2 separate regions of the Homo sapiens genome follow, and region 1 is linked to region 2. Evidence: fine-mapped expression QTL. A gene starts in region 2. The other region holds a variant in brackets. All regions are shown on one strand. Distances are from middle to middle.

The links. PIP is the estimated chance that this variant, and not a neighbour inherited with it, causes the effect.
Region 1: its variant is the best candidate, but not a certain one, in a credible set for the expression of CPD in whole blood (TOPMed, PIP 0.76).

The regions. Positions count from the first base shown.
Region 1 is chr17:30,557,769-30,563,139 of GRCh38, forward strand. It overlaps the pseudogene LOC100420311 and the pseudogene TBC1D29P. Among named protein-coding and RNA genes, the nearest start is that of GOSR1, 83 kb to the left of the region's middle. The variant C/T (reference allele first, on the strand shown) is at 2,753.
Region 2 is chr17:30,376,316-30,381,686 of GRCh38, forward strand. It overlaps CPD (carboxypeptidase D), which reads left to right and starts at 2,612. Exons shown (of 21, transcript NM_001304.5): 1 at 2,612-3,411. The coding sequence starts at 2,666. RefSeq lists enhancers at 338-627, 878-927, 2,198-2,367, 2,513-3,440 and silencers at 2,418-2,657, 2,958-3,087.

The DNA.
Region 1 (5,371 bases), 180 kb after region 2:
TGGAAAAGGCCAAACCATAGGGACTGAGAAGCAGTCTGGGTGGCCAGGGGCTGACGGATCGGGGAGAGGCTGGGTGCATAGGGGCCACCCTGGAGACTTGGAGGATGAAGGAGTCGCTCCAGGAGGGGCTGGAGTGGTAGCCGGGAGACTCTGCACATTGGTTTAGAACCATGGAGGACCTGTACACCCAAAGACTGAATTGGCGTGTGTGCAAACTGAAAAAAAAAAGATCATTCAGAGTGAAAAGGATCAGGCAAGTCACTGTACAACTGGGCTATTTGCATGTCACAGATGTGGATTTTACTGAAACATTTCTTCAACAGTCAAAGTCCCTGAAGAGCTCACTGCTTATCTGGTGAATCATCTGAACCTGAAATGGGATTTGTTGTTAGGGTTTGTAGACAAAGTGAAACTAACAGCATCTGCACAACACAAACCAAAGCCCCCTTTCTCTGTTTCCCAGGCAGCAGGAACTATTCTACATCCTCCTGGCATATTCGAAGTATAACCCAGTGAGTATTCCTGGCAGTGAGGTTCCCAGGCCGTATTTCCATATTCACAGGAGTGGGTGTCTGGTGGGAGTGTCGTTGCTTCTTTTAAAGTTAGTATTTGTGACCCACCAGGATATAGGAGGTAGGATTCCAGCTCACCGCTGGCATAAACCTCCAGCAAGGGGGTGGTCTCAAGGGGTCAAGCTGAGACACAGAGGAGTCAGGGCCTGGACTCCTGGTGTCACCTGGGCCTGACCACCACTTATCGGAACAAGCCCCTCCTCCTGGGGCTGCCCCAAAGCCCGGGAGCTTGGCAGCATCACACACAGAATGGTGCTATCAGGAGACATTTTGGACAAGGTGCTGAAGTGCCCGATGGATATGGCTCTTGTCATGAAATGAATTTGCATCCTGAGGAAGTCTCTTCTTCAGAGGAAGCCTTCCCAGTCACCTCTGCCCTCTCCGATGACATGAGTCCTCCCAGGTGACCTCAGCCCTCCCAAGTGACTTACTTCCACGGTGACTCTGGCTGTTGCAGGTGGTGGGCTACTGCAGGGACCTGAGCCACATCGCTGCCTTGTTCCTCCTTTATCTGCCTGAGGAGGACACATTCTGGGCACTGGTGCAGCTGCTGGCCAGTGAGAGGCACTCCTGCAGGGTAGGTGAACAGCTGCCCCTGGGGCTTCACGCAGCCAGACCCGGGGATGGCCACCCTGGCCAGGTGATCTCGGCTTTCAGCCAAGGCACCTTCCTTGTGTCGCCAGCTTGTTGGGAGCCTTTAGGACGTCTCTGCTGACGGTCCCAAAGGAACCCGGAACTGACCCCCCAGAGCCCAAGTCAGACGCCTTTCATCCCCATCAGCAGAAGGCATCTCATCCTCCCCGTGGCTGCCCTCTGTGTCCTGGAGCCACGCCCTCCGGCTCTGATTCTGTGCAGCTGGCTCTCCGCAACCTGAGAGTCCTCCTGCCCTTCAGTTGCTCAGGCTCCAGCTGCCCTTGGTACCCACGAAAGGGTACCAAGCCCAGATGGCAGCATCTCCCCATCCCGTGTCCCTTGGCCCAGCCCCACTTCCAGGAGACGACCACAAAGCCCAGCACCCACCCTGTTCTGGCCGCCCCCTGTCGTGGCCTCAAAGTCAGGCTTGCCCTCCCGGCACCCTGGCCCAGGAGGCCTCCAGGGGCACCTCCAGCCAGGCTCCAGGGGATGTTCCCACCCCTCCTCCCCAGGGCCAAGGCCACATGGTGGGGTCACCAGATGGGAGGGTGGGAGGCCTCGGGGTCTGGGGGGCTCTGCAGCTGCCCAGCTCTTCCAGCTGATGGCTCCACATCTTGGGGGAAGGCTCTGATTTCATGACGGGCTGGGGGCTTCTCAGGATTCCACAGCCCAAATGGCGGGACAGTTCAGGGGCTCCAAGACCATCAGGAGCATGTGGTACCCACATCACAACCCAAGACCATGGGGCATCTGGTGAGTTTATGGTCCCCTCGGCTCTTCCCCAGAGGCCCTGCATCCTGGGGGGCTGGAGGAACAGCGGGGGCTGCAGCCCCTCATGGGGCTGGTGACAGGCTGAGTCCCAGCCAGGGCCTGACCTGGGATGTCGGGTTCCCCATGGGCTGGGAGTTGGGTTTCCTTTCCAGCCCTGGAGGAGACAGAGGCACAGGGATGGGGGCCCTGCTCCCACAGAGAAGGGCTAAGGGCAGTGTGTCCACCGGGAGTGCCGGAAGGGGAAGATGTTGCGGGGAGCCTGGGACACTGCCCAGTGTTCTGCACTCGGGGAAGGGTCTTCAGAGGGCCCTGGAAGAGGGAGGTTTTTAGGGCAGCCCATGGGGCCCTGAGCACCTCTGTTCCTCCCATCAGGACAAGGAAGGTCTATGCACACAGGGTTCCTCATTCAGCTGGCTTCTCCGGGTGCTGAATGATGGGGTAAGGAGGCACAGGGAGACCCTGGCTCAGGGACCCTCCTTGCCCTGCAGTGCCCTGCTTCCCCAGCCAGGGGGTCCAGCTCACCCCAGTCCACAGGAGGCTCAGGCAGATCCCCAAAGGACACACAAGCAAGACCCTCTGCCCAAGAGGGCTCATCCCAGTGCAGAGGACAGGGCTCAGGACCAGCCTCATGGACAGACTGGGCCAGGACCCAACTAGGGAGGGCTCAGGGGAGCCTCAAGCCCTGGGCAAGCCCCTCTCTGCACTGAAATGAGTGCCCCCCCATAAGGAGCTGCAAGACCTTGTCTGACCCAGCCTCCTGGAGGGGTCGGGTGACC[C/T]TCATGGGGAAGGTCAGTGAAGCCCCAATGGGCTAGCTCGAGCCACCAGCCCCAGCCTGGAAGGGCCAGGTCCTCCCATGCCTACTTTCCCCACAGATCTCTCTCGGGCTCACCCCGTGCCTGTGGGATATGTATTTGCTGGAAGGGGAACAGATGTTGATGCTGATAACAAGCATTGCCTTTAAGGTTCAAAGGAGTAAGTCCACGTGTGCCCAGTGGGGCCTGGGGAGCACTGGGGTCAGACCCCGACTAGCCTAAGGGCAGCTTCCTCACACTGTCCTCATGATCCTGTTCTGGCCAAGGGGGAGGTCTGGCCAGGTGGGCTGGGCAGGGCACAGTGACACCGAGCCCATCCCTCACATGACCCAGATGAAAGTCAGGAGTGTGGTGAGCACTTCCCTGCCCAGGCCCCCCCAACCAGCCACAGCCTTCTGTGCACATCTGGACCCCTGGGGTGGCCACAAAAGGATCTGGCACTGCCCAGTGGGAGACTGAAGTGGTCACAGGGTGTGGGCTCTGACCCTTCCCAGGGAACTCTCCTGGCCTGATGCCCACCTTGTCCCTAGAGCGCCACATGAAGATGTCCAGGTCTGGCCTGTGGGCACGTTTTCAAAACCAGTTCTTCCATACCTGGGCCCTGGATGATGACACTGTTCTTTTTTTTTTTTTTTTTTTAATACTTGAAGTTCTAGGGTACATGTGCACAACGTGCAGGTTTGTTACATATGTATACATGTGCCATGTTGGTGTGCTGCACCCATTAACTCGTCATTTACATTAGGTATATCTCCTAATGCTATCCCTCCCCCCTCCCCCCACCCCATGACAGGCCCTGGTGTGTGATGTTCCCCTTCCTGTGTCCAAGTGTTCTCATTGTTCAATTCCCACCTATGAGTGAGAACAGGCAGTGTTTGCTTTTTGGTCCTTGCAATAGTTTGCTGAGAATGATGGTTTCCAGCTTCAGCCATGTCCCTACAAAGGACATGAACTCATCCTTTTTTATGGCTGTATATGTGCCACATTTTTATGGCTGTATATGTGCCACATTTTCTTAATCCAGTATATCATTGATGGACATTTGGGTTGGTTCCAAGACTTTGCTATTGTGAATAGTGCCACAATAAACATATGTGTGCATGTGTCTTTATAGCAGCGTGATTTATAATCCTTTGGGTATATACCCAGTAATGGGATGTCTGGGTCAAATGGTATTTCTAGTTCTAGATCCTTGAAGAATCGCCACACTGTCTTCCACAATGGTTGAACTAGTTTACAGTCCCACCAACAGTGTAAAAGTGTTCCTATTTCTCCACATCCTCTCCAGCACCTGTTGTTTCCTGACTTTTTAATGATCGCCATCCTAACTGGTGTGAGATGGTATCTCATTGTGGTTTTGATTTGCATTTCTCTGATGGGCAGTGATGATGAGCATATTTTCATGTGTCTTTTGGCTGCATAAATGTCTTCTTTTGAGAAGTGTCCATATCCTTCACCCACTTGTTGATGGGGTTGTTTTTTTCTTGTAAATTTGTTTGAGTTCTTTGTAGATTCTGGATATTAGCCCTTTGTCAGATGAGTAGATTGCAAAAATTTTCTCCCATTCTGTAGGTTGCCTGTTCACTCTGATGGTAGTTTATTTTGCTGTGCAGAAGCTCTTTAATTTAATGAGATCCTATTTGTCAATTTTGGCTTTTGTTGCCATTGCTTTTGGTGTTTTAGACATGAAGTCCTTGCCCATGCCTATGTCCTGAATGGTAATGCCTAGGTTTTCTTCTAGGGTTTTTATGGTTTTAGGTCTAACATGTAAGTCTTTAATCCATCTTGAATTAATTTTTGTATAAGGTGTAAGGAAGGGGTCCAGTTTCAGCTTTCTACATATGGCTAGCCAGTTTTCCCAGCACCATTTTTTAAATAGGGAATCCTTTCCCCATTTCTTGTTTTTGTCAAGTTTGTCAAAGATCAGATGGTTGTAGATGTGTGGTATTATTTCTGAGGGCTCCGTTCTGTTCCATTGGTCTATATCTCTGTTTTGGTACCAGTACCATGCTGTTTTTGTTACTATAGCCTTGCAGTACAGTTTGAAGTCAGGTAGCATGATGCTTCCAGCTTTGTTCTTTTGGCTTAGGATTGTCTTGGCAATGCGGGCCCTTTTTTGGTTCCATATGAACTTTAAAGTAGTTTTTTCCAATTCTGTGAAGAAAGTCATTGGTAGCTTGATGGGGATGGCATCGAATCTATAAATTACCTTGGGCAGTATGGCCATTTCCACAATATTGTTTCTTCCTATCAATGAGCATGGAATGTTCTTCCATTTGTCAGTGGATGACACTGTTCTTAATCATCTTCAGGCCTCTATGAAGAAACTAACAAGGAAACATGGGGACCTGCCACCCCCAGGTGGGCTCCAGTACCAGGTCCCTTCCTGAGTCACCTTCTGGGGCAGTCAATACTAGGGGAGTGCCCAGGAACCCCATCCCTACTACCTGGGTCTTCCTCTTCAGCTTCTCTTCTTCCTCTTCCTCCTGGACTCTAAGAAAGTACAGGAGGCCCACCATTCCTCAGGGCAGGCGCTCAGTGCGTGTGTACTGGACGTGCTGTGCATGCAGGAGGGGGATGTGG
Region 2 (5,371 bases):
GTTTGATCATAATATATTGTATGCATGTATCAAAATATCAAATGTATCCCATAAATATGTACAATTATCATGTATCAAATACAAAAATTAAAAAAAAAAATCCAAGTCATTGCCACTCTGCTTCTGTGAACAGGAAGCCTTTTTACCTTCAAGCCTTTCCCAAGTCCCTTCCATTTGTAAGGCCACACCTTTTCCTTGGGGAAAGAGGAAAGAAACACCTGTCATAAGGTTCAAGACTTCTCAGACACAATTGGAGGTATTCAGCTGTAGGTAAACACAAACCTGTAGGTAAACACAAAAGTGACTGAGGTCCAGAGCTTTGGGTTTCACTTATAACCATAAGCAACTGTGTACCTGCTAAGGAAGAAGGCTGCAGACCTGAAAGAGGCCCACGGAAGGCCTGGGGATTTCTGAGAGGACACCGGCTCAAGTTACATTCCCATATTATTTCACCACCCTCATGCTTGTTTATTTACATTTCAGGCTGCCTCTCTAGGCGAGGCTGCAGGAGTGAAGGGGCTGGAAGAGGTTTCAAAGGAGAGTGAACGTGGTAGAAAAGGAAATATTTGATTAGAAGTTAACATGTCCTCTGGGGCTTCTTTGACTTGGATTACTGTAAAAGTGCATGGTGTAATAGTTGAGCACTCCCGGGAGGTGGTGGGCGGTCTCTCTGTACAGAGTTGTGGCTTTGTTTCTGATGAGTTGCAGCTGCTGTGCATAATGTAGACTAGATCAAATGGGGCATGGAGAAGAGCCATTCACAGGACCGGAGTGACGGTGCTCGCTCTGATGGCAGAATACTAAATTAATCATCTTCACCTAAACCTGTGCTTTCTCCTGGCCTGTACCTCAGTGAATACCTGCAAGTTGCTTAGGCTGTAACTTGAAGTCAGCCTACAATCCTCTTTGTCTCCAGATCCTGTCCACTTTCCTTTCCGAAGGTCTTTCAGATCCATTTCCTTCTTTCCACCTCCACTGGCACTGCCCTCATTCAGAGTCTCATCATGTCTTCCTGGATTGCAGCTTCCTTCCAGGTCTCTCAGCCTCAAGTCTTAGGCCTCCCATTCAATTTTCCGTGTTACTGTCAGAGGAATTTTTCTAAACTAGCTTAAAACCCGTCTGTGGTTCTCCATGGCCTTCCAGATCAAATGTGCTCCCTGAAGACTGGCCTGTGAGCCCCTTCACACCAGTAATCCTGACCCTGCATGCAATTCCCAGAACACAAGGCATTTGTTCTCAAATCCTGCGGCTTTCTTTGCTTGCTTCTCCTCCTGCCTGGGATCCTTCCCATCCTCCATGGTTTCTCTCCTCCTTTCCTCCTCCTCAAGTTCAGATATTTCCCTCACCTGTACCCCCTCTGTTGTAGCATTTATCACAAACTACACTGAATCTCTTGACTGGGCAGAAGAATGAATTGTTTCCCAGCATCTAGCTTTGACATAAAAGTTGCTCAATAAATACTTGACGAATGAATGAACTCTATTAAAGTAGGGTTCAGTCATAGTTCAGGGAAGGGGCCCTGAAATAGCTGGCTCTGAAAGAAGGTAATGCCGGTTATTGCGATTATGTTGTTAGATGGGTAGAATTTCGCATTCGATTAAGGGATAGTTTTGGGTTTCTTCAAGCTAAAGAAACTAAAGCCTATAAAAGGTGATTTAAAAGACCTCTTCTCTAGACTTGATGAAACGCTGTAATTGCCATCTTTGGCTGACACTGAGGAGTTCAGGAATGCCAAGCAAGTGTTTCCAGAAATGTCAAACCTGCTGTTTTAAAATATGTCATTCCAGGGCACAGTTAAATATACAACTTGCTCCGATGAGGTGGGAGAAGTGGGCCGGTGAGCTGTGAAATGAAATCTGCCTAATGAGGGTCGAGGCCAGCACACACAGGGACCTATTTGCAGTAAAACAACGTGGGGTGACGCCTAAGAAATAGACAACATTAACACAAAGGGAGCCTACTACGTAGCACATTTCCGCTAGGCATAAAAGAGACACCTTTCCAGAAAGCAACTCTAAAAATGAATGCACCGCCTAGTGAGGTGCGAGCCTTCCTCCCCACGAGGCGTCCCGTGCAACCGCACGCGGACAGCGGGGCTCCAGCGGAGGCGGGGTGGATGCGGAGACAAGGCGCCTAGGAGACTGGGCTAAGGCTTTGAGTGTCCGAACGAAGATTCTTTCGAACCTATTGATTTTTTCTAGTCTTATGATTCTTTCGAACCTTTTGATTCTTTCCATTCTCGGTTCTAAGCATTAAAGCGCAGCTGAGAAAGGCAGCAACAAAGATGGGAAGAGAACTAGCAGGAGTTCTCAGAGAAAAATGGGTGATAATTTAGGGGAGAAGCCATAAAGAAGAGACTAAGCGAGAAGCGGAGCACACGCAGAAGACGAAACAAGGAGGAGGAGAAGAGAAGAAGAACCTTGGCGAAGGAAGAGAGTGACCAAACTCGTCCCGGACGGGAGGAGGGCAGGCCCGCCCAGAGGGAATCGGCTGCTTTAAGGGAAGCCCCGCCCCCTGGTGGTGACGCTCCACCAGGCCCGTCCGCGATTGGCTGCGGCCAGAGGGCGGGATGGGGTTGCTAGGCGAGGAGGGGATCCGGCGGGCCCCCGCCGCCCGGAGCGCTGAGCCGCGGGAGCGGAGCCGGGGTTAGCGGCGCTGCTGGAAGATGGCGAGCGGCCGGGACGAGCGGCCGCCTTGGCGGCTAGGGCGGCTCCTGTTGCTCATGTGCCTGCTGCTGCTGGGGAGCTCGGCCCGGGCGGCTCACATCAAGAAGGCGGAGGCGACTACCACAACTACGAGCGCGGGCGCCGAGGCGGCCGAGGGCCAGTTCGACCGCTACTACCACGAAGAGGAGTTGGAGTCGGCGCTGAGGGAGGCGGCGGCCGCGGGCCTCCCCGGCCTGGCCCGCCTCTTTAGCATCGGCCGCTCGGTGGAAGGCCGGCCGCTGTGGGTGCTTCGCCTCACCGCCGGCCTGGGGTCGCTAATCCCTGAGGGCGACGCGGGGCCTGACGCTGCCGGGCCCGACGCTGCGGGGCCGCTGCTGCCCGGCCGGCCCCAGGTGAAGCTGGTGGGCAACATGCATGGCGACGAGACCGTGTCGCGCCAGGTGTTGATCTACTTGGCCCGCGAGCTGGCGGCCGGCTACCGCCGCGGGGACCCGCGCCTGGTCCGCCTGCTCAACACCACCGACGTGTACCTGCTGCCCAGCCTCAACCCCGATGGCTTCGAGCGTGCCCGCGAGGGCGACTGTGGCTTCGGCGACGGCGGCCCGTCCGGGGCCAGCGGCCGCGACAATAGTCGCGGCCGCGACCTCAACCGAAGCTTTCCCGACCAGTTTAGCACCGGCGAACCCCCCGCCCTGGACGAGGTGCCCGAGGTGCGCGCCCTCATCGAGTGGATCCGCAGGAACAAGTGAGTGTTGCCTGCCCCCTCCCCGTCCGTGTGAGCCTCCAAGGGCCGAGGCTGGTTCCGGCACCCAGTAGGCGCTCAGACAATGCTGGCATAAGGGGTGGCGGTGGTGAAGGTGAAGGGAGACACCCTGTAACGGGGACAGGGCCCAGGCCGCGTAGCCTCCCGTCCTGCTAATCATCAAAGAATTGCCTCCTAGAGGCTGTCATTTGTTCAAGGGATGGCTGGAGGGGACACTCCTTTCTGACATTTCTGGTCCCTATTCTTACAGGGGCATAGAATATGAGCGAGAAGAGATCTTAAGGATAACCTAGGTCAGCTCACACATTTTATAGATAAGCTGTCAATGTTGTTATCTTATATCAAAAGTGCCTAATGTTATAGGCGCTGTGCTAATTTTTTCTGTGACTGCAGTATCTCACTTTATTTTGGCCACAACCTGATGTCATAGACACCATCAGTTTTGCATACGGGGAAATTGAGGGTCAGATTGGTTAACTGATTTACATAGGAGTGTGGCTGGGACTTAGAATTAGGCAATCTGATTCCCGATAGTCCTCTTAGCCACGGAGGGACACTGGAGCCCAAAAATGGCAGATGATATTCCCAGGATCTTCCCCTTGCCTATTTGACAGAAGCTGATTTTTCTCCAATTTTTACCTCTGACTCAGCTTAAGAAGATATGGACTTAGCTGGAGAACTTGCACAGATCTGTGAGCCGCTTCATTTTAGACTCTGAAGGGTTTGTGATGTCATTTGTGCACCTTATTAGCCTGGGCAGAATGGCTAATGGTCACACTTCTAATACACACTTTAAGTGTTATTAAGCATTGCATGAGGTTTAAAAAATTACAAAGTAGAAGAAGGAGGACCTCAAGAAATTAGTATAAAACAAGAGAATGTTATAAATATTTATGAGGTATGTTGGTGTACCCAGTTAAACTTTACAGGAATTGTTCCCACTGGCAAGATGTGTGTGGGCTGCAATAACACGGACCATCTCTGTGGAAGAGGTAGAGCTTGAGCTATCTCCAGAGATGGGCAGGATTTTCAGCAAAAAGGAGAGGAATAAAATAAGAGGGAACTCACTCCAGATGGCATAGTGTCTGAAGTGAGCAGGCATCTCTTCCCCTTTTCTAGCATCAGCTTTTCCCCATTTTTGTATCTTCATAAGGCTTTTGAAGCAATAACTGATCATTCCATCTGGATTAAAAGAAGATTTCTGAGGGACTGCTAAGATAAAGAAGTTTCCCTGCGGGACTTGGAATCATTTCTTCTACAAGATTTCAGTCATATATAGAAGATCTAGAAAATTCTTGAGTGTTAGGACAGTTCCTGAGTCTTTTCGTCTTCTATCTTTTACTTTACTCCTCTTGATAAGCTCTCTTGTAGATATATAATTTCACATAGACTTTCTGGGAGGATTTTTTTTTCTTTTAAATACGATCGTGTCATCACCTCTGAACATCTGCGTAAGAAATATGACTTTGACATACACTTATTGACAGAGCTGTGATGGCCAGGGCTTTTTGGAGATGATACAACAAATGCACCGTTTGCATTGCTTAAATGTTTAAAATGCTCTGTCCTTGCACCTTTAAAATGCTGTGATCCTTGCAGGGATGTAAATTCTGTGCCTGGATTTTTCTTTTCAGTATTAGTTGTGCTGTGACCAAATATGAAAATAAGCTTTTTCTTGGTGCAAGTCGCCTTGAGGCTATACAGAGTCATTTTGGTCTGTGGCTGTGGACTACCCTAATCATATCTGTTCTTCAAATATGTAACTCTCATTAATCAAAAGGGAAAGTAGGTGATCATATATGGTAAAGAGTACATCCATCCTAACTCAGTCTTCAAGAATTCACTCAAAATGCGTACTCTGTGCTATTAACCAATAACAAAGGACACTGATATGTGAATAAAATTAAAAACACAAGCACACACACAATTTGATATTGATGCC